Linked DNA regions of Homo sapiens: region 2 is linked to region 1. Evidence: fine-mapped expression QTL. A gene starts in region 1. The other region holds a variant in brackets. All regions are shown on one strand. Distances are between the middles of the regions.

Region 1 (16,096 bases):
GTGCTGAGCCTCCTGGCAGTTGAAAATCTGTGCATAACTTTTGACTCCCCCAAAACTTAACTATTAATAGCCTACTGTTGACCAGAAGTCAACAGATAACATAAACGATCAATTAACGCATATTTTGTATGTTCTATGTATTATATATCGTATTCTGACAATAAAGCAAGGGGGAGAAAAGAATAATAAACATGTTATTAAGAAAATCATTCCTGCCTCACTCCTGGTAGGTGTCATTGCATATTTTGGCTGGGCGCAGAGGCTCATGCGTGTAATCCCAGCACTTTGGGAGGCTGAGGTGAGTGGATCACCTGAGATCAGGAGTTCAAGACCAGCCTGGGCAACACAGTGAAACCCTCTCTCTACTAAAAATACAAAAAATTAGCTGGACATGGCGGTGTATGCCTGTAGTCCCAGCTACTTGGGAGGCTGAGGCAGAAGAATCGCTTGAACCTGGGAGACGGAGGTTGCAGTGAGCCGAGATTGCGCCACTGCACTCCAACCTGGGCAATGGAGCAAGACTCCATCTTAAAAAAACAAACAAACAAAAAATGATGCTGGGTGAGAGAAGGCAGACACAAAAGCACACATAGTGTATGATTCCATTTATACGAAATGTCCTGGACAGGCATGGCCTGATCTCCCTCTGGCCCTAGGAACCCTGTCAGGGGCACTGTGCTAGAAGACCCAGATCACTGCAGGCCATCAGGCTGTCTGTCTGTCTTCAGTCCTGACATCCAATCTCCTGGGCACCTGGCAGGCACAGGCACATGCTGGCTAAGTGGGAGAAAAACGCCCATTGGGCCAGGCGCAGTGGCTCATGCCTGTAATCCCAGCACTTTGGGAGGCCGAGATGGGCAGATCACTCGAGGTCAGGAGTTCAAGAACAGCCTGGCCAACATGGTGGAACCCCATCTCTACTAAAAAAAAACAAAAAAATTAGCTGGATTAGCTGGGCGTGGTGGCATGTGCCTGTAATCCCAGCTACTCGGGAGGCTGAGGCACGAGAATCACTTGAACCCGGGTGGCAGAGGTTGGCAGTGAGCCGAGATCGCGCCACTGCACTCCAGCTTGGGCAACAGGGTGAGACTCCATCTCAAAAAAAAAAAAAAAAAGAAAAGAAAAAAAAAGAAAAACGCCCATTGACAACAGGACAGTCTTTGCGGTCTTCCTCGTCCCCCATCCAAACTGCAAAGCTGCTCATCCTAGGCATGTTTGGAGATGTTTGACAACCACTTACCATGGGGCTAATGCAGCCAGTTCCGCCCTCACACAACAGGGCCATTCCTAAAAATGACCTCACGCTGCAAATTCACACAATCAAACCACAGGGCTCATGGGAAAACGGGTCAGGGCACAACCATCCAAATGTCACCAATGACACCTAAAAAAAAAATAGGCACCTACTAAAAATGGTAGTGACATTGTACAAATGTCAAATGGTTAAGAATTTCAAGAATATGGCCGGGCGCGATGCCTCACGCCTGTATAATCCCAGCACTTTGGGAGGCCAAGGCGGGTGGGTCGCTTGAGTCCAGAAGTTGGAGACTAGCCTGAGTGAGATGGCAAAACCCTGTCTCTACTAAAAATACAAAAAAATTAGCCAGGCATGGTGGTACATGCCTGTGGTCTCAGCTACTCGGGAGGCTGAGGCGGGAGGATCACTTGAGCCCAGGAGGTTGAAGCAGCAGTGAGCCCTGATTGTGCCGTTACACTCCAGCTTGGACAAGAGAGTGAGAACCCATCTCAAAAAAAAAAAAAAAAAAGAAAAGAAAAGAAAAGAAAAAAAATACACAAATACAGTATCAGCCTTGGAAAGACTGAAGGCTCATTTGTGGACCTGGGCATGGGGAGGTGGCAGCCTGTGAGTTACTGTGAAGGTCTGGGAGGAGATCATCTGAAATCAGGCGGGATATTGTAACCTCAGACAGGGACAGATGTGGCTCCTGGCACACAGCAAGGCACTGAGGGAGCACAGAGATGCTGGAGAGGGTGCAGGTGTGGTTTTTGTGTATTCCTACGTGGCTGGGGTCAGCCAGGTGCAGTTTTCTGCATTCATACCCAATGTTTCTTGCAGACAAAAATCTTACATAAGTGAACACAATATTTGATTTTATGCTCAAATCATTCCTAATGCATCCATCATGTCGGAACACATTTGTGCTTTCAAAACAAGTGATAAAGTGGAAGTGACTGTACTCCGCCCATGGGTAATTTCAACCTACTGGCGTGAAGTGACTAAACATAGAGTTAGGAAGAGATCTGTGTTATTATGGAGTATTTTCACCATGCATAACCTCAAGAGTACAGAGAATTGTAAAATGTAGTAAAATGAAGACGAAGTGATGAGTTTTGAGTACTTTCAGCGCCTTTGCTATTTATTTATTTATTTATTTTATTTGAGACAGTCTCACTCTGTCGTTCGGACTGGAGTGCAGTGGCATGATCTCAGTTCACTGCAACTTCTGCCTCCTGGGTTCAAGTGATTCCCTTGCCTCAACTTCCCAAGTAGTTGAGATTACAGGCATGCACCACCACCCCTGGCTAATTTCTTGTATTTTTAGGAGAGATGGGGTTTCACTATCTTGGTCAGACTGGTCTCGAACTCCTGGTCTCAAGTGATCTGCCCTCTTTGGCCTCCCCAAGTGCTGGGATTACAGGCTTGAGCCACCTCGCCCAGCCATATTTTTAATACACGTTGAGCATCTCTAATCTGAAAATCCAAATTCCACAAATGCTCCAAAATTTAAAAATTTTCAGCGCCAACATGACGCTCAAAGGAAACACTCACCAAAACATTTCAGATTTCAGATTTTCAGATTAAAGATACTCTGGGCATGATGGCTCATGCCTGTAATCCCAGCACTTTGAGAGGCTGAGGCAGGTGGATCACTTCAGCTCAGAAGTTTGACACCAGCTGGGCAACACGGTGAAACCCTGTCTCTATAAAAATACAAAAATTAGCTTGATGTGGTGGCATGTGCCTGTAGTCCCAGCTACTTGGGAGGCTGAGGTGGGAGGATTGCTTGAACCCAGGAGGTGAAGGTTGCAGTGAGTCAAGATCGCACCATTGCACTCCAGCCCAGGCAACAGAGCCAGACTACACACACACACACACACACACACACACACACACACACACACACACACACGATACTCTACCAGTAAGTATAATGCAAATATCCCCAAATCTGAAAAATTAAAAATCTGGAACATTTCTTGCACTGACCGTTTTGGAAAGTGCATTTTAGATTAGGCATTTTTTTCTTTTTGAGACAGGGTCTGGCTCTGTTGCCCAAGCTGGAGTGCAGTGGCCCATTCTTGGCTCACTGCAACCTTCACCTTCCGGGTTCAAGTGATTCTCATGCCTCAGCCTCCCAAGCAGCTGGGATTACAGGTGCCTGCCATGACACCCAGCTAATTTTTGTATTTTGTAGAGATGGGGTTTCACCATGTTAGTCAGGCTGGTCTTGAACTCCTGACCTCAAGTGATTCACCCACCTTGGCCTTCCAAAGTGCTGGGATTACAGGCGTGAGCCACTGCACCCGGCCGATAATGCATTTTGGCTACTCAACCTGTATAATGTGTTTCATTGCAAATCGGTATAATTTAGTTTTTAGTCATGGCTTTGTTAACTCAGGCTTGTATAATTCATGGAATAGTATCAACTGACTCTTCTAAGCAGCGAGCCTTCTCCCGTGTGCTGATGAGGCAGTAATCTGTGTGAGGTGTGCCCACTTTGAGCCAGGGGCTGCGGCCAGCAGCAAACGGGGGGCTCACATCCCAAAGAAGACAGACAGGAAGCAGATGTGTATGGAATAATAAGACCATGCTCTGTGTTTTGTGTACCATGCAGTCAAACTGGATGACCGGGCCATGCTAGTGTCCTCATTGGCTCCTATTCACCCATGATCTAAATCAAGGGTCCCCAACCCCTGGGCCACAGACTGACACTGGTCTGATATTGGATGAGTAAGCAAAGCTTCATCTGTATTTACAGCCTCTCCCCATCGCTCACATTATCGCCCGAGCTCCACCTCCTGTCAGATCAGCGGCAGCATTAGATTCTCAGAGAAGCCCAAACCCTATTACAAACTGTGCATGCGAGGGATCTATGTTGCATGCTCCTTATGAGAATCTAATGCCTGATAATCTGCCACTGTCTCCCATCACCCCCAGGTAGGATCTCTGGCTGCAGGAAAACAACAGCTCAGGGCTTCCACTGATTCTACGCGATGGTGAGTTGTATCATTATTTCATTATATTACAATGTAACAATAATAGAAATAAAGTGCACAATAAATGTCACGCACTTGATCATCCCAAAACCATCACTGTCCCTCCCATCACCTTGCCCCTTGTCCATGGAAAAAATGTCTTCCATGAAACCTGTCCCTTGTGCCAAAAAGGTTGGGGACTGCTGCTCTAAATAGTATGAGATGGGCCCGGCACAGTGGCTCATGCCTGTAATCCCAGGACTTTGGGAGGCTAAGGCAGGTGGATCACATGAGGTCAGGAGTTCGAGAACAGCCTGGGCAACATGGTGAAACCCTGTCTCTACTAAAAATACAAAAATTAGCCAGGCATGGTGGCAGGCGCCTATAGTCCCAGCTACTTGGGAGGCTGAGGCAGGAGAATCGCTTGAACCCGGGAGGCATAGGTTGCAGTGAGCTGAGATCACGCCATTGCACTCCAGCCTGTGTGACAGAGTGAGACTCCGTTAAAAAAAAAAAAAATAGGCCGGGCGCGGTGGCTCACTCCTGTAATCCCAGCACTTTGGGAGGCCCAGGAGGGCGGATCACGAGGTCAGGAGATCAAGACTATCCTGGCTAACATGGTGAAGCCCCGTCTCTACTAAAAATACAAAAAATTATCCGGGCGTGGTGGCGGGTGCCTGTAGTCCCAGCTACTTGGGAGGCTGAGGCAGGAGAAAAGTGTTAACTCGGGATGCGGAGCTTGCAGCGAGCCAAGATCGCACCACTGCACTCCAGCCTGGGCGACAGAGCAAGACTCCGTCTCAAAAAAAAAAAAAAAAGAGTATGAGATGGCCAAACATACAACATGTGACATTGGGTGGGTGAGATCTACAGTTTAGTGCTCACCTATTCTCACACAATGACGGGAGGAGGACCCTGTACACTGTGTGAGGCCACACAGGGGTTGCACTCGGGAGCACAATGAACAAGCAGGGGCTGTGGGAAGCAGGCTTTGTAGTAATAAGAGGGTGAGGCAGCCCCTGGTTCTCCTGGGAGGATGTGATTGGTTTCTTTCTTTCTTTTTTTTTTTTTTTTTTTTTGAGACGGAGTCTCACTCTGTCACCCAGGCTGGAGTGCAGTGGCGCAATCTCGGCTCACTGCAAACTCCACCTCCTGGGTTCAAGTGATTCACCTGCCTCAGCCTCCCGAGTAGCTGGGATTACAGGTGTGCACCACCACACCTGGCTAATTTTTGTATTTTTAGTAGAGATGAGGTTTCACCATGTTGGCCAGGCTGGTCTTGAACTCCTGGCCTCAGGTGATCCACCTGCCTCGGCCTCCCAAAGTACTGGGATTACAGGCATGAGCCACCACGACTGGGCATGGCTTGTTTCAATAACTTCTCAGCAGCTAGGGAAGTGAAGTCTGTGGCTGATGGGTGGGGTGCAGCTGGTCTGGTTGCTTGGTGAGACAGCCAGGTGGAGAGCAGCTTCTCTTGCCAGGCAGGGGGCATATTTGGCAAGAGTAGCTGAACGGTCGGTCAGGACATCGTGGTCCTGTGTGGCTCAACCATGCCAAGGCAGCACTGACATTTTAGACCTTACAAACCAGGCAGGCAGGGAAGGCACCTCCGGGCTAACCCTGAAGGTGGAGGAGAGCAGCCGGTCTTGTGATGCCACGGGGAAGTGCATCCCAGGCAGAGGGGACAGCTGGCACCTTGGCCCAAGATGGTGGTGGTGGGTGGGGGTCTGATGTATCTCAGGAGCAAATGTGGCCAGAGCCCAATGGTCAAGGGGGAGGCGGAGGGCTCAAAGGCTGGCCTGGAGGCTGAGGAGTGGAGGTTGGCTTAGGTAGGAGTCAGAGTTGGCCTGGAGGGGCCCGGAGGGGTGGCATGGGGCAAACTTCGATGATGAGGGTGAGATCAGATGCTGCTTCTTGGTGCTAGATTTTTGCACCTCCATGTGAGTTTAGCAGCCTGTTTGGGGTTGGCCTGGTCTGAGCTTGGAGGCAGGCAGCTCCTCCTCTTCTCCAGGCAGGAGAGACGGCTACTCAATCTACTCCGGCCCCTGCGCGCGTGCACGCACACACACACACCAACACACCATCATCAGTTACGTCCCCTCTGGGTTGTGTGCTCAGTGGCAGCAGGTCCTGTATGTCCCAGGGTCCTCATTGCCCAGCCCAGGGCTTGGTGCTGCCTGGGTGATCAGTGTTGGGTCCAAAGGCTGTTGACAGGGCTGAGAAGCCCCCAGAGGACCCACATCCCTAGGGGCAGGGAGGGGGCAAGAGAAGCTTCCCTTGAGTTTCCTGGAAGGATCAGGAGTTGGACTGGCAAAGGAGGCAGGTAGAGGAAGACAGAGATTAGGCAGAAGCAGGCAGTGGAGTAAGAACAGGGTGTTGGAGGAACTAGGCTGAGGTCTCTGCCATCAAAGCCAGAGTTTAGATTTGGTCTCAATAAACGGGAAGCCCTGGCTGGATGTGGTGGCTCACACCTGTAATCCCAGCACTTTGGGAGGCTGAGGAGGGAGGATCATTTGAGCCCAGTGCTCAAGACCAGCCTGGGCAACACAGTGCGACTCCGTTTCTAAAAAAAAATATATAAAAATTAGCTGGGTGCGGGCTTGCACCTGTAGTCCCAGCTACTCTCCAGGAGTCTGAAGCTGCAGTGAGCTGTGACTGCACCACTAAATTCCTGCCTGGGCAACAGAGCAAAACTCTGGTCTCAAAACATAAAAATAAAATGTAAAATAAACAGGGAGCCCCGAGGATTCCGGGCAGGAGGGGGTGTGGTCAGCACTGGAATTTTAGAAGAAGGGCAGTTGGTAGCTGGGGGAAGGGGGTTCCACACTGGAAGGAGGGGGTCCAGGACTTGGACATGGTATAGGATGTGCCGCCTGCCAGTGGGACCTAGGACAGCAGGACCATCACTGAGGTGGCCACACGGGGAGGGGCAGGAGGGGACACCCTGCTCTTGGAGAGAAAGGGGGTGCCCATCCACCCCTGCTGTATGAAGGGGAAAGGGGGACTCTGAGGCCCAGCGAGAGAGGGGACGGGCCCAAGGGATTTGTGGACAGTGGGGGTGGGGGAGAGGGGAGCAGAGAGCACAGATAGGGACCTGGGGCAGATGTGAGTCTGGGAGGTTCGACCCCTGGCTAGACTGTTTCCCCAAAGGGTCCTCTGCTCCTTGGGCTGTACGCACTGCACTGGGCACTAGATACAGGCCAGGGCTTAGGGCACGGCGGCGCCTGTGGGATCGGGGTTGCAGGCGGCGTCCAGACCCAGGGGCCCCTGGTGAGGGGCGGGCCCGGGGAGGGGGCCATAAGGGGCTGGCTGGGGAGGGAGGGAGGGAGAGGCCAGGGAAGGGACAGGTTCCGAGTGGACGCTGGGTGGAGAGGAGAGGGAGAGTGGGGGCGGTGGGGGGTCGGGTCCGAGGCGGGGCTGGTGGGGAGGGGGGCATCCGGGGGCGAATCCGGGTAGGGGGTGAGGAGGCGGGTTCGGAAGGAATCGGGCAGGGCCCGGGTGGGTCCGGTGAGTAAGTGAGGGGACGATCCCCGGAAGGGATCGGGGCGGGTCGGGGTCCGGAGATGGGCGGAGCAGGCGTCCCGGGAGGGTGCGCCCAGGAGCGGGGCGAGCGGGGCGAGCGGGGCGGTCCCGGAGACGAGGCGGGTCCGGGGAGGGGGCTGGCCCGGGGCTGCCCCAGCTTGGCCGGGCGCGGAGCGGGGCGCATGGCGCCGGGCGCACTGCGCGGGGGCTGCGAACAAAGGGCCCCCGGCGGCGGCGCGAGGACGGCCGCGCTCGGACCCTGGCCCTGGCCCAGCCCTGGCCCGGCCCCCTCCCCAGGCGCGGCGCCCCCCAGGAGCCGAAAAATGAGCGGCGCCCTGCTCTGGCCGTTGCTCCCGCTCCTGCTCCTGCTGCTGTCGGCGCGGGACGGCGTGCGCGCCGCGCAGCCTCAGGCCCCGTGAGTATCCTCCGGCGACAGAGGAGGTCGGTCGCCTTCTGGGGTGGGGGTCGCGGGTACTGGCTCAGAGTGTTGCAGCGACCTGCCCAAGGCCACACAGCCTCCGCGCTGGGCTGGACCTGGCCTCTTGTTCCCGAATCGTCTTGAGGAGGGGGCGCCCTAAAGTTTCCGAAGTGGCTCTGTGGAGGTACAGGGACTCCCAAAAGCTAAAGGTGCTGAGGTCAGCTCCCCCCGCCCCACCTCGCCCCCTTCGTGTGACCCGGGCTGTCATCATGGGTGGCGATTTCCAGTTGTCCAAGGTATGAAGGTAAGAGGAGCGTCTTGGCTGAGAAGTGGGAGGAGAGTGCGAAGGGGCACTTTCCCGTGGGTGGGCGTGGTGAGGGAGGAGGAAGTGTTTGTTTTGCTTCTACATTTTTCTAGAGGTTTGCTTGCAGGCTTCTGGTGGGTTGACAGCGGGGAGAAGGTGAATTAACTAACTGCTGGGGAGTACTGCTAAGTTGGCTTCACAGAGAATATTTCTAAACCTGGCAAGTTCGGGTGAGCTCTGCAGGGCTGCGGGTTCAGGGGGGCTGCCCTGGTCTGCACAAGACCAGCCTTTTAGTCCAGCTGGGCGTTTAGAAGGCGGCTTGTTCAAGCAGCCCTTGTTTAGGAGTTTCCAGAAAACTGGTAAGCAGTGAGACTAGGTGGGTGTCGTTATTTGCAGTGAGTAGTTGGTCCTTGCTGGTCACAGTTTTAAAAGCAAGACAGTCTACTGCGCTCTGAGCATCCAGACTTCCCTCTCCTAGGCTTCGTGAAATCGGAACCCTACAAATTTTCATCCTAATGCTTCTTTCAAAGCTGGCATCCCTTAGAATAGTGGTTCTCAGCCCTGGGGGGGATTTTTGTCTCCCTGAGGCCGCTGGGAAATGTCTGGAGGTATTTTTGGTTGTCACAAATAGGGAGAGGCATTTGGTGTTGGCATTAAGTGGGTGCAGGCCAGGAATGCTGGTAAACAGCTTTCGATGTGCAGGTCAGCTTCCACTGCAAGGAATGACGCGGCCCCACATGACAGACCTTGGCTCCAATGAGAGACCCTGCCTTATACAGAGGTTTTTGTTTGTTGTTTGTTGTTTTTGGGGTTTGTTTTTGTTTTTGTTTTGAGATGGAGTTTTACTCTTGTTGCCCAGGCTGGAGTGCAATGGCACGATCTTGGCTTACTGCAACCTCCGCCTCCCAGGTTCAAATGACTCTCCTGCCTCAGCCTCCTGAGTAGCTGGGATTACAGGCGTGTGCCACCACACCCGGCTAATTTTTTGTATTTTTAATAGAGATGGGGTTTCTCCATGTTAGCCAGGCTGTTCTGGAACTCCTGACCTCAGGTGATCCACCCACCTCCGCCTCCCAAAGTGCTGGGATTAGAGGCGTGAGTCACCGTGCCTGGCCCGTTAGAGAGTTTTAAACAGTTCTCCAGGGCGTTTTCCTCTGACTAAAGTCACCCTGTGATCTTACCATCTGTTAAGTGACATGGAATCCCTGTGCTGAGAGACACACTGGGGAAGAGATGTCCCCAAATGACCGACCTGGGATTCCAGATTAGCTGGCCTCTAAGCCAGGGGCATGGTTCACCCAGCCCAAAGGATCTCGTCTTAGGAATAGCTCTGGATGCCCACTTCTGTCACCTGAGAGATTTTTGTGTGAGGAATCTCTGATCCCAGAAAGCAGCACAGTTTGCAGTTGTAAGAGCAATTCTGTCTACACTGACCCAGACATCCCTTTCCCCAATCTGGGACCTTCTGAGACCAGCAGGATGAGAAGCAGTGTTGGCCCAGATGCTAGGGGTGGGTCAGGTGTGACAGTGAATGGCTGGCAAGCATCCCAACAGCTGGAAACAGCTGCAACTTCTGAATGGCAGGGAAACTTAATTTGGTGATGTCAGTTTCTCTGGGCAGTTGGATGAAGACTTGAACCCGTATTGTCAGGAGTTTCAAAGGTGACCAAGCAAAATGAACACGTATTCCTTACTCTCTCTTCTACACTCACCATGTACTATATGTGAGGCCCGTCTAAACTCTAGGGATCAGCTGGGAGCCAGACAGAAAGAGTATTCCCCTTTTAAAGGATGCCACATTCCAGTGCTGGAGCTGGACAGGACACCTGGACAGGGTAATTGCATGTCCTGGTCAGTGCTGGAGTTATGTAATACACAGCACATACCCAGGGTCTTGCAAACTCCAGTTGGTCCTAGAGTTGGACAGCACATGTGTGATCCCAGGGGACTGAACTCTGGTAATTATTCAAGGCAGATGTAGCACACTATGATCACAGGGTCAGTGCACACTGTGGCCAGGGCTGCAGTAAACAACCCAAACCCATTGTTCGTGTGCATGAAACAACACAAACCCACTGCGTCTTTTGAGATGCAAAATTGGTAATGATGTTTTCATGAAGTTTGGTTTATCAGTGAGTTATTTTATGGATCTTATTTTTGGTATCTTACTCAAGAAATCTTTGCCTAATCTAAGCATGCAATGACTTTCTCCTTTGTTTTCTTCTAGTGTTTCTACAAGTTTTACTTCTTCAATTTAGATCTGTTACTAAGATTAACTTTGAGTTAATCTAATTGCATGGTGTGAGGTAATGTTCTCAATTCATCTTTTTGCATGTGGATGTTGGGTTGTTCTAGAGACACTATTGAGGCCAGGTGCAGTGGGCCTGTAATCCCAGCACTTTGGGAGGCCAAGGTGCGCAGATCACTTGAGGTCAGGAGGTCAAGACCAGCCTGGCCAACATGGTGGAACCCAGTCTCTACCAAAAATACAAAAATTAGCTGGGTGTGGTGGTGCACGCCTGTAGTCCCAGCTACTCTGGAGGCTGAGGCAGAAGAATCCCTTGAACCTGGGAGGTGGAGGGTACAGTGAGCTGAGATCACACCACTGCACTCCAGCCTGGGCAACAGAGCAAGACTCAGTCTCAATTAAAAATAAATAAATAAATAAATAAAAATAAAAAAAGAAAATATTGAAATGAAAATGTCTCCTAATCTCATTGCATGGTCCAGTTTCCCCCTTTACCCTCTTTTCTTCTGATTTCCATCATTCTACATGGTTGCAATTGTGGTGCCTTTGCTATAATGCTCTTGGTGATTGTGGGGACACTGTAAGCATTTCATGAGGTTACAGGGCCTTTGTAATTTTCCATGGAAGGCTGCAGATACTGGGAGACAGGAGCTCAGGTGGGGAGGACCTGGGCCCTCAGGTCAGGTCCCCTAAGGGCACCTCAGTGCCCTCTTCTGCCTGGCTGTGTGATCTGGTGCATGTTCCTATTCTTCTGAAGCATCAACTTCCCATGGGGAAACTGGGGGTAATGCCTCCCTTCCAGAGGTGACTTCATAGTCAATCAGAAGATTTTAGGAAAGAGAGGCCTGCTTTGATTCCATTGTTTTCAGAGCTCTTTTTGTTTGAGGCCCTATGGTTTGTTTTCAGGGTTTGTTCTTAAAATGAATGTTGCAAAGAAGCCCTTTGCTTCTTTTTATCAGGTTTTGGAGTCTGACCGCCTGAGTTAGAATCCTGGTCTGTCACTGTTGCGGCTGGTGACTTGACTTCTCTGGGGTTTCCTTTCTGACTTTCTAAATGGGGCTGATGTCAGCACTTCTCACGGTGGTGGGGGACGGGGTGCACCGTGAGGATGAAGTGGGATCCTGCCGGTTACCTGGCTTGTGGAGGAGAGTATTTCAGACAGTGGGCATGACATGTGCAAAGGTCCTGGGCCAGAAGGGCCAGGCGTGGTGGATCACACCTCTAATCCCAGAACTTTGGGAGGCTGAGGAGGGTGGATCATTTGAGGTCAGGAGTTTGAGATCATCCTGGCCAACATGGCAAAACCCTGCCTCTACTAAAAAGACAAAAATTAGCCGGCCGTGGTGGCAGGCACCTATAATCCCAGCTACTTGGGAGGCTAAGGCACGAGAATCCCTTGAACCCGGGAGGTGGAGGTTGTAGTGAGCCGAGATCATGCCACTGCACTCCAGCCTGGGGGACAGAGCAACACTCTGTCTCCAGGAAAAGAAAAAAAAAAAAAGGTCCTGGGGCAGAAGGAAGTAGCTGAGTCAACAGGCTGGAGGCCGGAATAGAGAGAGTAAGAGGGGTTGTGCAATGCTGAAAAATCCAGTGAGGCCAGATTCTTACCCAGCATGGGGACTTCACAGGTGAAAGAGCCAATCCATGGACTCAAGAACTGATGGGGGGGCACAGACTCCTAGAGCATCAATGCCAGCCAGGTGTGGTCAGCAAAAGGCAGGAGTCTGCTGCGAGGAGAGCCCTGACCTAGCTGTGGTGGCAGCGAGACCAGGGGTCTGGGGTGAGAACTTCACCTCGGATCTCCTTTCCTGCAGGGGTTACTTGATTGCAGCTCCCTCTGTTTTTCGCGCGGGCGTGGAGGAAGTCATCAGCGTGACCATCTTTAACTCTCCAAGGGAAGTCACGGTCCAGGCTCAGCTGGTGGCCCAGGGTGAGCCGGTGGTGCAGAGCCAGGGAGCCATCCTGGGTAGGTCCCTTGGGTGCCAGACCAGGACTTCCCCTTCTTTTGCAAAGTGGAGCCACTTGCTGGCCTTCAGGGCTGGGGCAGTGTGGGTGTTGCTTTGCTTCCCTTCTGCCCTAAATCCCCAGGGGCATGGGAGGGAGGGAGGGAAGACAGGTTGCATTCTCCTCATTCTACAGATGGAGAGAGAGTAAAGCCCAGGATGGGCAGCTCAGCTCATGGGTCCTCAGCAGCCCTGGTTCTGTGGGTGCAGATCTGGGCAGAGCACGGGCACCCACCTGTGTCAGCTTTGACCAGAGGTGGGACAGGGGACCTGAAGGAGATCACATGACCCCCCTCTGACCTTTTGTTGGGTTTCCAGCACACCTGAACCATTAGACTCAGACCTGGGCTCACAGGCCTGTTACTAAGTGCAGCTCAGGCCCTCAGCCAGTCTCTCCCCTTCACTCCTTGGTCAAATGCAGACAGCAACAGCCTCAGCCTCCTGGTCAAGATAGTGAATGCAGATCCCTGGCTCAGAAAGCTGTAATCTCCCAGGGGAGGTAGACTCATTCCTCATGCCGAGAATGATGTAGCCACAGGAGACACAGAGAAGGCCAGGGGCTCCAAGGCCAGTGAAGCAGCACTTGTCTCTTAGGGAGGTGTGGCCAGAGAAGGTGGAAATGTGGAAGCTTCTAGAACCTTCTAGAAGCCCTTCTAGTCCTAGAAGAACCAGGCACTCCTGACTTGGGTGGCTAGCCAACTGAAACCCAACCCAGTTGGCTTCTGCAACAGTTTGTGGTCTCTCATACCTAGAAAGAAAGTCCACTGGTATTGCTGGCCAGCTTCTCCCCCTACCTCTTGATGCAACCAGGTCTCTCCTTAAGATCAGGGGAAGCACCAGTCTCCCAAGATGGCTGGATAAAGTCCCAGGATTCCCTCTGATTGGCCTATCTTGGTTCATGTGCTCAACCCTGAGCCAATCACTATGACCAGAGGGGAAGGCCTATGCTGATTGGTTCATTTTGGGTCATGTGCTCAGCCCTGAACCAATCACTGTGACCAGGGGGAAGGCCTATGCAGATTGGCTCAGAGTCCCAGGAAGGTGGATGGAGAGCTTGGGAGCCACGTGCGTTGTGTGCTGGGCAGATAGCTTGTCCAAGGAAATTGAGGATCTGTTAGCAGGAAATGGGATAATGGTTGCTGGGAGGCAAAAATAATAGATACCTAATTGAGTCCTGGAGGCCAGAAACCTAGTACAGTAGCACAAATGATTTAGTGTGGGTAGCAGAGAGAGGTGATGGGAGAACAGTCAGGTCCACTGGGGACCTCAGTCCCCTCTTCTTTCTCTCCACCCTTCTCCTTGTTCCTCTCCCCTGGTGTTTTCCCATTACTCCCCTCACAGCTTAGTTTGGACAGGAGCCAGGGGTGAAGTAAATCAAGTACTTAGGCAGGCCAGCTTTGCCCTGAATAGCTCAGCTTTGTCCATTCCCTCTGGCCTTCAGCTTGTGCCAGCTTGGAGGAAACCTCTGGCTTCTGCCAGTCCTAGCCTGGCCCAGTCCAGGCCAGCATGACCCAGGGTGTGTTTGTCCACATGAAACCCCTTTGGGTTAAGAAAGTTTGTGGTTTGTGAGGCTGCAGCTCAGGGAGGCAGGGCAACACAGCTCTTGATTTAACTTTTTTCATTTTATTTTCATTTTTAGATAAAGGGACAATCAAACTCAAGGTAAGCCGTTGATTTTTAAAATCATAAACCTGACCTTGGAAATAAAGAATTGAATTGGGCCAGGCGTGGTGGCTCACACATGTAATCCCAGCACTTTGGAAGGCCGAGGTGGGTGGATCACCTGAGGTCAGGAGTTCGAGATCAGCCTGGGCAACATGGTGAAACCGCATCTCTACTAAAAATACAAAATTAGCCAGGCGTGGTGGCACATGCCTGTAATCCCAGCTACTCGGGAGGCTGAGGCAGGAGAATCGCTTGAACCTGGGAGGCGGAGGATGCTGTGAGCCGAGATTGCACCATTGCACTCCAGCCTGGGCAACAAGAGTAAATCTCCGTCTCACCAAAAAAAAAAAAAAAAAGAAAAGAAAAAAAAAAAAGAATTGAATTGGGATGGAATAAGAGAAATTGCATGTGTTGTGAGAAAAATCATTTTTAAAAAAGAGATGTAAAAAATGAATAATGAGGCTGGGTGCCATGCTCACATCTGTAATCCCAGCACTTTGCGAGGCTGAGGTGGGTTGATCTCTGGAGCCCAGGAATTCAAGGCCAGCCTGGAAAACATGGTAAAATCCTGTCTCTACAAAAAAAAAAAATACAAAAATTATCCATTAGCTAGGCATGGTGGTTCACGCCTGTTCTCACAACCACTTGGGAGGCTGAGGTAGGAGGATCGCTTGAGACTGGGAGGTTGAGGCTGCAGTGAACTATGATCGCACCACTGCACTCCAGCCTGGGCAACAGAGTGAGGCCCTATTTAAAAAAAAATGAGAGAATAATGAAATTTAGAAAAGGAGAAATCCACCGATAATCCAGTTTTCATACTTTTCACTTTTTCATGTTTTCCACACATTCTTGTTCATGCACATACATTTTCTTTTCATAGTTTCAGTTAAAGGACACACACCACTGGCCGGGCGCAGTGGCTCATGCCTGTAATCCTAGCACTCTGGGAGGCCGAGGAGGGTGGATCACCTGAGGTCAGGAATTTGAGACCAGCCTGGTCAACATGGCAAAACCCCATCTCTACTAAAAATACAAAAGTTAACTGGGCATGGTGGCGCACACCTGTAATCCCAGCTACTCGGGGGCTGAGGCAGGAGAATTGCCTCAACCCATGGGACGGAGGTTGCAGTGAGCCAAGATCTCACCACTTCACTCCAGCCTGGGCAACAGAGTGAAACTCCGTCTCAAAAAACAAAACAAAACAAAACATAACAAAAGAAAACAAAACACCGTGGTGTTTCCTAGTCCCTCTTATCACACTGTTGTAAACAACTTCCATGTTTCCAAGTCTCTGTAATTGGAATTTCCATTTCATTGTAAGCAGCATCCTATTGCACCCCTCTTAAATATCAGTTTGCTAAGCCCCCAGCTAGATTTTTTCTAGATTGTTTCAGTGGTTTTTTTTTTCTTTTTTTTTTTTGAGATGAAGTCTCACTCTGTCTCCCAGGCTGGAGTGCAATGGTACAATCTCAGCTCACTGCAACCTCTGACCCTGGTTTCAAGCGATTCTCGTGCCCCAGCCTCCCAAGTAGCTGGGACCTCAGGCATGCACCATCAAGACTGGCTAATTTTGTGTGTGTGTGTGTGTGTGTGTGTGTGTGTGTGTGTGTATTTTTAGTAGAGATGGGGTTTTACCATGTTGGCCAGACTGGTCTGAAACTCCTGACCTCAAGTGATCCACCCACCTTGGCCTCCCAAAGTGCTGAGATTACAGGCAT
Region 2 (16,096 bases), 24 kb after region 1:
TACAACCTCTGCTTCCTGGGTTCTAAGTGATTCTCTTGCCTTAGCCTCCCGAGTAGCCGGGATTATAGGTGCCCACCACCACGCCCGGCTGATTTTTTTTTCTGTTTTTTTTTTGAGATGGAGTCTTGCTCTGTCACCCAAGCTGAAGTGCAGTGGTGCGATCTTGGCTCACTGCGACCTCTGCCTCCCGGGTTCAAGCGATTCTCCTGCCTTAGCCTCCTGAGTAGTTGGGATTACAGGTGTGTGCCACCATGCCCAGCTGATTTTTGTATTTTTAGTAGAGATGGGGTTTCACCATGTTGGCCAGGCTGGTTTCAAACTCCTGACCTCAGGTGATACACCCGCCTCAGCCTCCTAAAGTGCTAGGATTACAGGTGTGAGCCACTGCACCTGGCTATATTTATGTGCTTTCTTTCTAGCGCTCTCTCTCTGTCTGTATATGTATATATACTTACAAAATTATTTTAATGGTAAATAATGTGAGAATAACTTACAGATACTGTGCCTCTCTGGCCCTGAACACTTGGCCTGTATCCTTTAAGAGCAAGGACGTTCTCTTATACAACTCAAGGAGGATCATCACATTTAAAAATTTTGAGGCTGGGCACAGTGTCTCACATCTGTAATCCCAGCACTTCGGGAGGCTGAGGCAGGAAGATCGCTGTGGCCAGGAGTCCGAGACCATTCTGGGCAACATAGCGAAACTGTCTTGACAAAAAATTAAAATAATAAAAATTAGTTGAGCATGGTGGCATGTGCCAGTAGTCCCAGCTACTTGGGAAGCTGAGTCAGGAGGATCTCTTGAGCCCAGGAGTTCGAGGCTGCAATGAGCTGTGATTGTGCCACTTGAACTCCAGCCCGGGCAGCAAAGCACAACCCTGTCTCTACAAAAAACGAAAAACCAAAAAAAAAAGAGGAGGAAAATAATTTTGACATTGACACAATAATAATATCTAATATAAAATCCATGTTGTTCCAATAGTAACCTTTATAGCATGTTTCTTTGCTGGTCCAGGATCTGATCGTGGGTCATTTGTTGCATTTGATCATCATGTCTCTTGGTCTCCTTTAATTTGAATTAGTTCCTCACTGCCTTTCTGTGTCTTCCATGACATTGACATTTTTGGCAAGTCCAGGCAGTTGTTTTGCAGAACGCCCCTTGGTAGGATGGTCTCCTGGTTCCTTGTGACCAAGTTCAGTCTGTGAATCTCGGGCAGGATCCACAGAAGCAATACTGGATCCTCCCCGGTGCCTTGTATCAGGAGGCACCCAGCATGGGTTTGTCGTGTTGCTGGGGACATTAACAGGGTCCAGTGGTTCAAGTAGTGCCTGCCTGGTTTCCCCATTTCTTTTTTTTTTTTTTGAGACGGAGTCTCGCTGTGTCACCCAGGCTGGAGTGCAGTGGCGCAATCTCCGCTCACTGCAAGCTCTGCCTCCTGGGTTCATGCCATTCTCCTGCCTCAGCCTCCCGAGTAGCTGGGACTACAGGCACCCACGACCATGCCCGGCTAATTTTTTCTATTTTTTGTAGAGACGGGATTTCACGGTGTTAGCCAGGGTGGTCTCAATCTCCTGACCTCGTGATCCACCCGCCTTGGCCTCCCAAAGTGCTGGGATTACAGGCATGAGCCACCTGTAATGAGTCTTTCTAAAGACCCTACTTGGGGTTAGGATTCAACGGATGTAATCTAGGGGGACACTGTTTAACCCATAACAGCGACTGCCTGTCCCGGGGACCGAGGCCATGCATGAGCATGTTGAAAGGGTTTGGGGTTTGCTGGAAGATTTGCTCACTGCATCTGTGTCTTCATTACAGCTGGAAGCCTACATCCTGGTGAGTGGCCTCTGTCCTTCCTCGGCTTGGACTTGGGGCCCGGGTAGCCCACCTTCTGCAAGATCTGGTCTGTCTTCGCTCACTGTCTGCCTTCTGGGTTGAGCCGCTGTGCCTTACAAGGCTGGGACCTGGCCTCTTCTATCCTGGTCCCTGGGTCCGCCCTGGGATGGGCTGTGTGTGTGTCTGTCCGTTTCCTTTTTTTTTTTGAAATGGAGTCTCGCTCTATCACCCAGGCTGGATTGCAGTGGTGCTGATCTTGGCTCACTGCAACCTCTGCCTCCCGGGTTCAAGCGATTCTCCTTCCTCAGCCTCCCGAGTAGCTGAGACTACAGGCGTATGGCACCACACCCAGCTAATTTTTTTTTGTATCTTTTTTAGTGGAAATGGGGGTTTCACCATGTTGGCCAGGCTGGTCTCAAACTCCTGACCTCAGGTGATCCGCCCACCTTGGCCTCCCAAACTGCTGGGATTACAGGTGTGAGCCACCACACCCAGCCACGTCCATTTCTAGGTTTGTACACGGCTCCCTAAATGAGGAGGTAGGCCCAGCCCATCCCCTTCTGCTTTTCAAATCCTTCTCTATCCAGAGCTTTTTTTTTGCCCCGGGGTTAATGATTAATCTTGGGACCTTCGCTGCATGGTTGACATGCCCAAGAGAGAGGACTGGGAAAATCCTTACATTGGGCACATGCTAGGCTAGCCTGAGTTCACTCCGTGTGTCTGTCCCCCTCCACCACCAACAGGACCCCCGAGGCTCTCGGATGATAGAGTGGAGACACTTAAAGCCGTTCTGCTGCGGTAAGTTTCTTCCTCTGCGGCTTGGGGGCTGCAGATGTGATAAACCTTCCAGGAAAACAGAATATGCTCTGTCCAGGGCCCACCGCTAATGTACCCCCACTGCTGCTCCAGCTGGAGGGGACCAAGGAGGAGCGGAGGGCAGGTACCCACCTGGGAGGTGACAATGCCATGGGTTTGGATCTGGGAGCCTCAGCCCAGCCCACAGCACCTTCCCTGTGGATTTGGACCCTCTGCCCACGTTTCTCTATGCCCAGGACTCAGGCGGGGCTCCTGCTCAGAACTCAAGACCTTTGTGGAATACTGGGGCACCTGCTCTCACCTTGTTTTTTATTTTTTGAGACAGAGTCTCTCTCTGTCACCCAGGCTGGAGTGCAGTGGCACAATCTCAGCTCACTGCAACCTCTGCCTCCCGGGTTCAAGAGCGTCTCCTGCCTCAGCCTACCGAGTAGCTGGGATTACAGGTGCATGGCACCACGCCTGGCTTATTTTTGTATTTTTAGTAGAGATGGGGTTTCACCATTTGGCCAGGCTGGTCTCCAACTCCTGACCTCTCAGGTGATCCACCCGCCTTGTCCTCCCAAAGTGGTGGGATTACAGGCGTGAGCCACCACGCCCGGCCTGCTCCCAGCTTCTTCCTGCTATAGGTTGCAGATTTTATCATCCCCATTGCATGAGATATTTCTTTTCCAGCTAGAAGTCAGAAAGGACTTTGCTTTTTTCTTTTCTTTTCCTATGACTAGGAAGACTGTGTAATTGACATACCCCACTTTGCTTTGCCTGTGAGGGGTGTGATGCCCCAGGAGAGGGCAGGGGATAGGTAGGGTGTGGGGAGTCTGGGGATGGCCATGCACACACCCAGGCTGTCCAGAAATGGGGTAACAGTAGAGCCACAGGCAGGATCACGGGGGTCTGTTGGTGACCCTTCCTCCTTCTGTCTCCTGCCTTGGGTCTCAGCCTCTTTTCTTCTTCTTCATCTTCCTTCTTTCTTGTTCTTTCTTCTTCTCCTTCTCTTCGTCTTATTCTCCCTCCTCCTCCTCCTTCTTCTTCGATCTTCCTTCTTCTTTCCTCCTCCTCCTCCCCCTCTCCTCCTGCTTCTTCTTCCTCCTTCCTCCTTCTTCTTTCTTCTTCTTCCTCCTTCTCCTTTTTCTTTTCTTCTTCTTCTTTTTTTTTAAAATACAGTCTTGCTATTGTCACCCAGACTGGAGTGCAGTGGCACGATGTCGGCTCACTGCCACCTCCGCCTCCCGGGTTCAAGCCATTCTCCTGCCTCAGCTTCCCAAGTAGCTGGGATTACAGGCACGTGCCACCAGGCCTGGCTAATTTTTGTATTTTTAGTAGACACAGGGTTTCACCATGTTGGCCAGGCTGGTCTTGAACTCCCAAACTCAGGTGATCCGCCCGCCTCGGCCTCGGAAAAGTGCTGGGATTACAGGCATGAGCCACCGTGCCTGGCCTCAGCCTCTTTTCTTCTGTTCCATCTTCCCTGTCTGCCTTCTTTACTCCCTCTCGTTCCCTTGATTGCTGTCTTTGTATCAGCAGCTATTTGTTGGGCGCCACATAGATACTGCCATGGGGTGAGCTTTCAACCCAATGGGGGAAGCAAACATGAACTAAACAGCCTGGATAATGTCAGTTGTGATGAGTGCTAGGAAGGAGAAGTTCAAAACTCAGAGATGGCAAATGGGGCTCTATCCCAGCCCGGGGTGGCAGAGGCAATCCTGGAAGGCTGCCTGAAGGAGGATCCTTTTCAGCAACAAAGAAGGAACGGGGGACAGCCAGGCAAAGCAAGGGGGCCAGGAAGCATCTCCCAGGCAGGGAGTCAACTTATGGGAAGGGCTGTGGATGTCTAGGGTAGTGAGGTTGGAGATGGGGGACAGGAGAGAGATGTTGAGTGCTGAGAGCAGGGGTGACACTGGCAAGAGCCAGGGAAGAGAATGGATTTGATCTTTTTTTAAAAAGTTTTTTTTTTTTTTCTCAAGAGGCAGGTTCTCTCTCATTCTGTCACCTAGGCTGGAGTGCAGTGGTGTGATCATAGCTCACTGCAGCCTCTACCTCTTGGGTTCAAGTGATCCTCCCACCTCAGCCTCCCAAGTAGGTGGGACCACAGGCGCGTGCCACCAAGCCCAGCTAATTTTTTAAATTTTTGGTAGAGACAGGGTCTCAAGATGTTGCCTAGGCTGACTTGATCTTAAGAGCACAGAGTTGGGGAAGAGGTCAACCTCCTGTTTAAAAAAACCCTTTGAGGCCTGGCTTGGTGGCTCACACCTGTAATGCCAGCACTTTGGGAGGCTGAGGCGGGCAGATCACCTGAGGTCAGGAGTTCAAGACCAGCCTGGCCAACATGGGGAAACCCTGTCTCTACTAAAAATACAAAATTAGCTGGACATGGTGGCGGGTGCCTAAAGTCCCAGCTACTCAGGAAGCTGAGGCACAAGAATCTCTTGAACCCGGGAGTGAAGGTTGCATGAGCTGAGATCATGCCACTGCACTCCAGCCTGGGCAAAAGAGCAAGACTCTGTCTCAAAAAAATAAAAAAAAAACCCTTTGGGATGTGTGTAGACCCATGATTCTCAACCAGGGTGACTGTGCCCCTCTCTCAGGGAGCACTTGGCAAAGTTGGCCACAGACCCCTTACAAAACACGTGCTCAGGACACACATCCCCGAATGTCCTGTAACCATCAAAGGCCCACTTTGCCTGAATATGAGGGGGAAAAAGCCATTTTAGCCATCACATCTTCTGACTCCAATGTGATTGAGAGAAGCCGTGGGCGCCGCTATGGGTTTTCGGTTCTGTCGTGAGACCCAGGGGAACCACTCTCCCTGTCCCTTCCCTGTATGGCCCTCCCCATATGATCATTGGGGACGAGTGGAGCGTGTCACACTCAGGAGTGGAAGATCCCCTGGCACTGCCTAGAGTCAATGTGCCCTTTCCAACTCCTCCATGGCTCCCAGTGAAAACAGCTGCGGACGGGGCTCAGAGGCACAGGCGCAAAGCAAATGACAGCTCCCATGTCAGCGGCTGATGGTGTTTCTGGGGGGATGTTTGGGGAGAGAGTGCTCTGTTCTAAAGTGTGTGCGTGCTCTAGTTCAGTTGGGGGGTGGTTCTCATGGAGGGGTGGGGGGTCGGACAGGCGATTCTGCCCCCAGGGGACATGGCAATGTCTGGGGACATTTTGGCTTGTCAGGACTTTTGTGGAGGACAAGGGGTGCAACTGGCATCTGGTGAGTGGAGGCCAGGGAAGATGCTCAGCACCCCTCAGTGCTCTGGGATTTCCACCAAGGGGTGACTTTGCCCCCTAGGGGCGATATTGGCAATGTCTGGGGGACTTTTTTAGGTTGTTATATTGTAGAGGGCATTGGTACTACTGACCTTTGGTGAGTGGAGGCCAGGGATGATGGTCAGCACCCCTCAGTTTACAGGATGCCCCCACACCACAATGAATGATCTGGCCCTAAATGTCAGTAGTGCTGAGGCTGAGAAACCCTATCCTGGCAGGAGACCCTGTCTGTCTTGTCTGTTTCTCTCTCTCTCTCTCTCTGTCTGTCTCTCTCTCTCTCTGGGATTTCCACCCAGGGGTGATTTTGCCCCCTAGGGGCGATATTGGCAGTATCTGGGGGACTTTTTTAGGTCGTTATATTGTGGGGGGCATTGGTACTACTGGCATCTGTTGGGTGGAGGCCAGGGGTGCTGCTCAGCATCCTACAGCTCACAGGACACCTCCACCCCAGAGAGCCACGTGGCCCCAGGTGTCAGTAGTGCCCAGGCTGGAAATGACTCGGGTGGCGGGGGATGGAGTGAATGAGCCGGGCTGGCTCATTTCCCTCGTTTGTCCAGCTCACTGCCTGCCCCTGGCCCTGGCTGCAAGGCTGTCCCGGGAACCGCGGGTCCAGTCCCTTCCTGCATCCCTTCGAAGCCCGCCGGGGTGTCAAACCTGCTCCGCTGGCCTGATCCTACAGGGTGCTGCTCTGCACAGACCCCGCCAGCTTCTCTGTGGTCTCCAGTTCTCCTGGGGGGCTGCTCAGGGAAGGAGAAGGAGCAGGGTCCTGGCTCCCTCTTCCCGTACCTCACCGTGTCTGTGGCTCTCTGAAAAAGCCCTTGCCCTCTCTCTTCACACAGGCATCACCAACATGAGCTTCCCCTTGTCCGACCAGCCTGTGTTGGGAGAATGGTTCATTTTTGTTGAAATGCAAGGCCACGCGTACAACAAGTCTTTTGAAGTTCAGAAGTATGGTAAGTTGGAGAATCTCAGGGTCTTGGGATTTCAGATCTGGGAGAAACCTTAGAAACTGGTGAAGAAGGCCGGGTGCAAGGGCTCTCGCCTGTAATCCCAGCACTTTCGGAGGCCCAGGTGGGCGGATCACTTGAGGTCAGGAGTTTGAGACCAGCCTGGCCAACATGGCGAAACCTCGTGTCTACTAAAAATACAAAAATTAGCCGGGCGTGGTGGCGCGCACCTGTGGTCCCAGCTACTTGGGAGGCTGAGGCAGGAGTATCACTTGAACCGGGAGGCAGAGGTTGCAGTGAGCCAAGATCGCACTACTGCGCTCCAGCCTGGGCGACAGGGCGAGACTCTGTCTCAAAAAAAAAAAGAAAAAGAAAAGGAAACTGGTGAAGATGGCAGTGAAGAGGTGGAGGATGACATGAGTCCCCGTTTACTGAGGGCTCATGATGGCTGGGTATAGTTTCAGGGGATGGTCCTACACTCTTACTTTTTTTTTTTTTTTGAGGCAGGGTTTCACACCCATCACCCAGGCTGGAGTGCAGTGGTGCGATCTTGGCTCACTGAAGCCTTGACTTCCCAAGTTCAAGTGATCCTCCCTCCTCAGCCTCCTGAGTTGCTGGGACTACAAGTGTGAGCCACCACACCTGGTTAATTTTTGTATTAGTAGAGACAGGGTTTCGTCATGTTGCCCAGGCTGGTCTAGAACTCCTGGTCTCAAGCAATCCTTCCGCCTCAGCCTCCCAAAGTGGACTCTTGCCTTTTATAGAAAAAAGTATTGTAGGCCAGGCATGGTGGTGGCTCACACCTGTAATCCCAACACTTTGGGAAGCTGAGGCTGGAGGATCGCTTGAGGCCAGGAGTTTGAGACCAGCCTGGACAACATAGTCCCTGTCTGTATAAAACTTTAAAACAATTATCTGGACATGGTGGCACGTGCCTGTAGTCCCCGCTACTCGGGAAGCTGAGGCGGGAGGATTGCTTGAGCCCAGGAGATCAAGGCTGCAGTGAACTGTGATTGCACCACTATTCTCCAGTTTGGGTGACAAAGTGAGACCCTGTCTCAGAAAAAAAAAAAGGTGGCCAGGCATGGCAGCTAACGTCTGTAATCCCAGCACTTTGGGAGGCTGAGGTGGGTAGATCACTAGAGGTCAGGAGTTCAAGACCAGGCTGGCCAACATGGTGAAACCCCATCTCTACTAAAAATACAAAAATTAGCCAGGCGTGGTGGCATGTGCCTGCAGTCCCAGCTACTTGGGAGGCTGAGGCAGGAGAATTGCTTGAACCAGGAGGAGGAGGTTGCAGTGAGCCAAGATCGTGCCACTGCACACCAACCTGGGAAACACAGTGACAATCTGTCTCAAAAAAAAAAAGAAAAGAAAAGAAAAGAAAAGAAAGAACGAAAAGATTCTTAGGCTCCTACAAGAGTTCTCTCAGGACCCGATTCTTTCTGGTTTACCGGCTGC[T/C]CCAGGGTGTCACCTCCGCCCCTGGTGACAAGATGGCTTGATACTCCCAGGGCTGAGTCCAGAAGCAAATGGAGAAATCAGCTCTCTGTTGCAGTCACCCTGGGGATGCCCCTTGTTGGCTCCCAGGGCCACCTCTATCCCATGCACAGACACAGGGGCTAGGAGGAGCCTCCTGGCCTCGTGTCCACCCTGGGATAGGCTGGAATCCGCCACACTCTAAGCACGTGGTCTAAAAGTGACAGGGGAGGCCCCTTGAGGAAAATGGGGTCCTAGTCCCCCAAAGATGAGAAATAGATGCAGCCCACAAAATCCCCAGGGCTGCTCAGCAGAGTGGTGTGGATGGGTACAGTGTCAACCTCGGTGGTGGCCAGGTGCTGTGGTCCTCAGACACCTTGCACCGGTGTCAGGGCTCCTGAGGCCACCTTAGGGACAGAAGCCAGCCCCTCCTCTCTGCTTGCTTTCTTCAGTGTTGCCCAAGTTTGAGCTTCTGATTGACCCGCCCCGGTATATCCAAGACCTGGACGCCTGTGAGACAGGCACTGTGCGGGCCAGGTGAGAAAGAGGGACCCCTGGGGCACACTGGGGGGGCCCTTCCCCTTCCCCAACCATCACGCTGCTCCCTCAAGGTCGTTCCCCTCCTCTGCTGCCTCCCTCCCTCCCACATGGGTGTGCCCCTCCCTTCCTGGTTCCCTCCTCCCTGGGGTGTGCCCCTCCCCTAGTGCATCTCCCTTCCTGTGACTCTCTCCAGTAGGCGCCCCCTCCTCAGGAGGTGCCCCTCCCCCTAGAGTATCTCCCTCCCCACCAGGCTCCTCCCCTGTGGGCGCCTCCTCCCTGGGGTGTCCTCCTCCCTCTAAAGTATCTCCCTCCCTGCTGGGCTCCTCCCCTGTGGGTTCCCCTCCCCAGGATGTGGCCACCCGCTAGAGCATCATCCTTTCCCGTGCCCCTCCCCTGGGGGCACCCCCTCCCTGGAGTGTACCCCTTTCCCTAGAGCATCTTCCTCCCCCTGGGCCCCTCCTCTGCCCTCCCCTTCCATCTCCCCCAACAACCGGGCTTCCCCCTCCTCCTACAGGCAGACACTTCTTCCATGGCCTCCCTGCTCCCACAAGGGTGCCCTGTGCCCCGCTCCCTCCCTAGTACTCGGTGTCTCCCTGCCACATGAGTCTCTTGCACTCTACCCACTGCCTGTCTTTGTTTCCATGCTGGTGTCCTCACCCCTATGAGCACGCCCCTGTCTCTCCAAAGCATGCCCCTCTCCCGCTGTGTATTCCTTCCTCAAGTCCTGCCCTTCCACTCTAAGTTCTTCCCTCCCCAAGGGTCTCCCCTCCCCAAAGAATGCCCTACCCCCCAGGGTGTGACCCTCCCAACCCCACCATGTTCCCCTCTCCCCCAAGGCTGCTCCCCGCCCTCTGCAGGCCTCCCTGGCATCCAACAGCACCCCCGCCAGTGTGCTGACCCGAGAGGGGTTGATCCTTGTTTTTTTTTTTTTTTTTTTTTTTTCAGACGGAGTCTTACTCTGTCGCCCAGGCTGGAGTGTAGTGACAGTCTCAGCTCTCTGCAACCTCTGCCTACCGGGCTCAATTGATTCTCCTGCCTCAGCTTCTCCTAGTAGCTGGGATCACAAGCATGTGCCACCACACCCAACTAATTTTTGTATTTTTAGTAGAGACAGAGTTTCACCATGTTGGCCAGGCTGGTCTCGAACTCCTGACCTCAAGTGATCTGCCCACCTTGGCCTCCCAAAGTGCTGGGATTACAGGCATAAGCCACCATGCCCAGCCTGCACTCTCTCATTTTGCTCCTGTTCCCCATCCACCAGCATTCCCTCTGCATCAGGAGTGACATACAGACATTTAAGTTTCACTATCACCCCTGAGAGGGTAGTTTGAGTCCCATTCTCTGGGTGAGGAAACAGGCTCAGAGAAGTTCGGTCCTTGGTTCAAAGTCGAGCTTAATAGGGCGCTTAGGCTCAGGTGCCTCTCAGTCGCTCATGCCTCTGCACTACTCTGCTCCAGAGGTGGCACCAACCTAGCCTTCTCAGTTCCAGAGTTCCTCTCTGACCCTTGGTCTCTTTTTCTGTCCATCTGGAGGCTTGGTGCAGAGGATCGGAGGGCCTTGGCATCTTCTGTCCCGATTCCAGGCTGCAGGGAGGGCTGTCAGGACAGGATGCAGGGTGTGGAGGGAGCTGCATCCATCACTGTACTAGTGGCCACACTATGTCAACCTGGCCTTCCTGAGGCTGGGCCCTCCCTGCCATCTTGGCTGTGAAATTGAGCATGCTTTATCCTTTTGTTCCAGGTATACCTTTGGGAAACCTGTGGCTGGTGCCTTAATGATCAACATGACTGTTAATGGTGTAGGGTACTACAGCCACGAGGTGGGACGCCCTGTCCTCAGAACAACCAAGGTGAGAAACAGGGACCCCTTCTACCCCCTGACCCAACCCCCAGGTTCACCTCCACCAGCACACATTTTATTTTACTTTCTCTTATTGTTATTATTTTATTTACTGCCTTTAAAAAGTTTTTGAATAGAGACAGGATCTCACTATGTTGCCCAGGCTTGTCTTGAACTCCTGGGCTCAAGCGATCCTCTCGCCTTTGCCCCCAAAAGTGCTGGGATGACAAGTGTGAGCCACCGCTGTTTTACTTTCTAAAACAGTTATATGGCAGGGATTTTTCTGATGATAAAATTCCTGCAGGCTGAATATAGAGACTTTAGAAAATATAAAAAGGAAGAAAATAAAGATAACTTGTTCTCCAATAGGTGGACATGACCACTATCGATATTTTGATGTGTTTCCTCACAGGTTATTGTAAGTAAAGTTAAAAAAACACCAATTTGGCTGGGCATGGTGGCTCACACCCGTAATCCCAGCACTTTGGGAGGCCAAGGCGGGCGGATCACTTGAGGCCATGAATTCGAGACCAGCCTGACCACCATGGCCTGGGCGACAAAGTGAGACTCCATCTCAAAAAACAAACAAAAAACAAAAAAACACTAATAAACACTAATTTTATTGCCTGGAGTCCCAGCTCTTAATATTTGGAAGGTAGAGGCAGGAAGATCTCTTGAGCTCAGGAGTTCAAGGCCAGCCTGGGCAACATAGTGAGATCCCATCTCTAAAATAAAATAAAAACATAAACAATTTTATTGAGATATCATTCACATAGCATACAATTCACCCATGTAGAGTGTACAGCTTGATGGTTTTCTTTTCTTTTTTTTTTTTTTTGGAGATGGAGTCTTGCTCTGTTGCCCAGGCTGGAGTGCAATGGCGTGATCTCGGCTCACTGCAAGCTCCGCCTCCTGGGTTCATGCCATTCTCCTGCCTCAGCCTCCCCAGTAGCTGGGACTATAGGTGCCCACCACAACACCCGGCTAATTTTTTTTTTTGTATTTTTAGTAGAGACGGGGTTTCACTGTATTAGCTAGGATGGTCTCGATCTCCTGACGTCGTGATCCACCTGCCTCGGCCTCCCAAAGTGCTGGGATTACAGGCGTGAGCCACTGCGCCTGGCCACAGCTTGATGGTTTTCATATAGTTGCAGAGTTGTGCAACCATGGCTGTTATCCAATTTTAGAATTGTTCCACCATCCTTCCATACATCCTTCATGTCCTTTTGCAGAGAATCCTCATTTCCCTCCTCCTGTCTCTGGCAACTACTATCTGTTTTCTGTCTCTGTAGATTTGCCTGTTCTGGACATTTCTGTGAATGAATCATATGCTATATGTCCTTTTGTGTCTGGCTTCTCTCACTCAGCATCATGTTTTTGATGTTTGTCTACATCGTAGCATGATCAATGCTTCATTCCTTTTTTATGGCTGCATCATATTCCCTGGTACAGATGGACCACAATGTGTTTATCCCTTCATCCGCTGGTGGACATTTGGGTTGTTTCTGCTTTTTGGCTATTATGTCTCATGCTACTATGAACATCCCTGTGCAAGTTTTTCTGTGGACCTACATTTTTGTTTCTCTTGGGTTCTTTCCTAGGAGCGGAATTGCTAGGTCAGAGGGTAACACTATGTGTGACCTTTTGAGGAACTGCCAAATGGTCAATGTGGCTGCACTATTTTATATTCCCACCTGTTTAAAGTTTTGTAACCTTTTTTGGTCTTTCAGCATAATGTTACATTGTGAGTGGGCTACAGTACAACAGACACCCACCTTCCTGGAGATTCCCATCCCTTTGTAGGTGCCCGGACATTAAGCCTTTCAGCACCGGCTCCTCCCCACCTCCCACCCAAAGCTCCTTCTCAGTCCCTTTCCCACCTGAGACACATCTGCTCCAATGGGCTCCCCTCTCTTATGTCTGAGATATCTTTAATTTAATTTAATTTAATTAATTTATTTATTGAGATGGAGTCTCTCTCTGTCTCCCAGGCTGGAGTGCAGTGGCACGATCTTGGATCACTGCAGCCTCTGCCTCCTGGGTTCAGGCAATTCTCCTGCCTCAGCCTCCCATGTAGCTGTGATTACAGGCATGTGCCACCGTGTTGGGATAATTTTTGTATTTTTAGTAGAGACAGGGTTTTGCCATGTTGGCCAGGCTGGTCTTGAACTCCTGACCTCAAGTGATCTGCCGCTGCTGGCCTTCCAAAGTGCTGGGATTACAGGTGTGCACCATCACACCCAGCCCATCTCTCTGCTCTCTGAGGCTTCTCTTCCATGGATTGGAAACCATAAACCCCTACCTTTCCCATTCCTGACACTGGCACCTTGGAGAATCCCAGCCATTCTCCTGGGAGGCTACCAGCTGATGGTCTTTGACTTAGTTCTCTCATTTACGGAGTAATTTACTCCACAGCTCTTTCTGAATGAGGATTATTTGCCAAGTCCCAGGGTGGGATCCTGAGATAGGAATTGAATGAGGGAGTTCTGGTGCCCCAGAGTGAGGCTGAGCAGGTTCAGCTGCCCCCTCTGTTGCCTGGGCTGTGGGAGATTGTGTCAGCATGGGAATCTCTTTCCTCTTTTTTTTTTTCTTAACCCAGGCTGGAGTGCAGTGGCACAATTCAGGCTCACCTCAACCTCTGCCTCCTGGGTTCAAGCGATTCTCATGCCTCAGCCTCCCAAGTATCTGGGATTACAGGTGCCTGTCACCACGCCCAGCTATTTTTTTACATTTTTACTAGAGGCGGGGTTTCGCCATGTTGGCTAGACTGATATCGAACTCCTGACCTCAAGTGACCCGCCCGCCACAGCCTCCCAAAGTGCTGGGATTACAGGCGTGAGCCACCGCACCCAGCCTCTTTCCTCTTCTGCCCAATGGAGCCAACATCCATCTTCCCTGGGATGTTGTCCAGATCCAGTGAGGGACCCTCTGCATGGTCCCGTGGCATAGATTGGGTATGCCACCAAGTGACCCCTGGCCCTCCAAGCAGCTGAAGAGTCTTGCACCTCAGGTGTGTGTTTCAGGGACATCCCTCAAAGACACTCCAACCCTGAGTGAGCACGGGCTGTGTTTTTCCTCCCTCCAGATCCTCGGCTCCCGGGACTTCGACATCTGCGTGAGGGACATGATCCCAGCGGACGTCCCTGAGCACTTCCGGGGCAGGGTCAGCATCTGGGCCATGGTGACCAGTGTGGACGGGAGCCAGCAGGTCGCGTTCGATGACTCCACCCCCGTGCAGAGGCAGCTGGTGGACATCCGGTACTCCAAGGACACGAGGAAGCAGTTCAAGCCGGGCCTGGCCTACGTGGGGAAGGTAACTTGGGGGTGACTGTGCTGCCTCCCGCCCAAGGACCACCGTGAAACCACCACCACTAGCCACTAGCTCTGCAGTGGTGACTCAGCTGAAAACGGATCCCCTGACATAACCTTTGCGGAGAGTGGAGAGGGCTGGTGTTCCAGGTGAGGGGCAGGGGACATTTTCCTCCACGGGAAAGGACAATCTACTCTATTCCACTTGGACAGACATCTGAGTAGCCATTTATTAAAGCAACTGCTCTAAGGCAGTCCTGTTTCTTCAATGGGTTCTTTTTTTTTTTTTTTTTTTTTAGAGATAGTCACACTCCATCGCCCAGGCTGGAGTGCAGTGGCTCCATCTCGGCTCACTGCAACCTCCGTCTCCCAGGTTCAAGTGATTCTCCTGCCTCAGCCTCCCAAGTAGCTGGGATTACAGGAACATACTACCAAGCCCAGTTAATTTTTGTATTTTTAGTAGAGACGGGGTTTCGCCATGTTGGCCAGGCTGGTCTCGAACTCCTGGCCTCAAGTGAACTTCCCGCCTTGGCCTCCCAAAGTGCTGGGGTTACAGGCGTGAGCCATCACTCCTGGCCCTTCACTGGGTTGATTTTATCCCCTGAGGACCTAAGTTGAGAGCCCTGCAAAGGTAGACCTTCTGTTCCTGAGACTGACAGGTGCAGACCCATGTGACATTTTGAACGAGCCTCTGCCTCCCACCCACCACTCAAGTCTTATGCACGGTAAATTTTGAGGTGTCCAGATGTCATGATCCTTATATATGTTTTCTTCTTAGAGACAGGGTTTTGTTCTGTCGCCCAGGCTGGAGTGCAGTGGTGAGATCATAGCTCACCACAGCCTCGACATCCTGGATTCAAGCAATCCGCCTGCCTCAGCATCCTGGGTAGCTGGGACTGCAGGCATGAGCCACCACGCCCAGCAAATTTTTTTATTTTTAAATTTTTATTTATTTATTTATTTTGAGACAAGAGTCTCGCTCTGTCGCCCAGGCTGGAGTGCAGTGGCATGATCTCGACTAATTGCAACCTCTGCCTCCTGGGTTCAAGTGATTCTCCTGCCTCAGCCTCCAGAGTAGCTGGGATTACAGGCATGCCCCACCATACCCCACTAATTTTTGTATTTTTAGTAGAGACGGGGTTTCACCACATTGGCCAGGCTGGTCTTGAACACCTGACCTCAGGTGATCCACCTGCCTCAGCCTCCCAGAGTGCTGAGATTGCAAACAGGAGCCACCGCACCTAGTCAATTTTTTAATTTTTTGTAGAGATGGGATCTTGCTGTGTTGGCCAGACTGGTCTTGAACTCCTGGGCTCAAGCAGATCTCCTACCTCAGACCCCCAAAGTGCTGGGATTGCAGATGTGAGCCACTACACCCAGTCATTATTCTTATTTTAACTGTTAAACTGGGGTAGGCTGGGCACGGTGGCTCATGACTATAATCCCAGCACTTTGGGAGGCCCAGGTGGGCGGATGACCTGAGGTCAGGACTTCAAGACCAACCTGGCCAACATGGTGAAATACTGTCTCTACTGAAAATACAAAAATTAGCCAGACATGATGGTGGACACCTGTAATGCCAGTGACTCAGGAGGCTGAGGCACGATAATTGCTTGAACCTGGAGGCGGAGGTTGCAGTGAGCCAAGATCACACCACTGCACTCCAGCCTGGGAGACAGAGTGAGACTTCGTCTCAAATAAAAAAACAAAAAACAAAAAACAAAAACAAACCTGGGGCATCTTCACCCCAATTGCAGCAGCAGGAGTGGGGCAAGGCCAACAGAGCCCAGTGTCATGCAAGGGGAAAGTGGGCCACATCCCTGGCCCTGCATCTGTCTGCACCCAGTTCCCTTTTGCCGTCCATGAGTGATGCTGGCTGGCTGTCCTAACACTGAGTTCTGACCCTCTTGTTCTGCTTTGGAACCTCCTTTCTCTTCTCCATGCCAGTGTTGGAGCCACCTCTATCCCATGCACAGACACATCTCCTGTGTCCCTGGCTTTGAGGGCCCCAGCTTGAGTAGAAACTAAAGTACCTCGTGCGGGGTCAGAATGTGTATGAAGAAGAGGTTTAAGG

The links. PIP is the estimated chance that this variant, and not a neighbour inherited with it, causes the effect.
Region 2: its variant is fine-mapped to the expression of CPAMD8 in hippocampus (GTEx, PIP 0.94).

What each region holds. Positions count from the first base shown.
Region 1 is chr19:17,018,610-17,034,705 of GRCh38, reverse strand. It overlaps CPAMD8 (C3 and PZP like alpha-2-macroglobulin domain containing 8), which reads left to right and starts at 7,896. Exons shown (of 42, transcript NM_015692.5): 1 at 7,896-8,155; 2 at 12,525-12,676; 3 at 14,353-14,375. The coding sequence starts at 8,064. RefSeq lists an enhancer at 6,816-7,724.
Region 2 is chr19:16,995,041-17,011,136 of GRCh38, reverse strand. CPAMD8 (C3 and PZP like alpha-2-macroglobulin domain containing 8) reads left to right here. Exons shown (of 42, transcript NM_015692.5): 6 at 1,817-1,834; 7 at 2,578-2,632; 8 at 6,751-6,864; 9 at 8,787-8,871; 10 at 10,615-10,723; 11 at 13,799-14,026. Among named protein-coding and RNA genes, the nearest start is that of CPAMD8, 24 kb to the left of the region's middle. The variant T/C (reference allele first, on the strand shown) is at 8,320.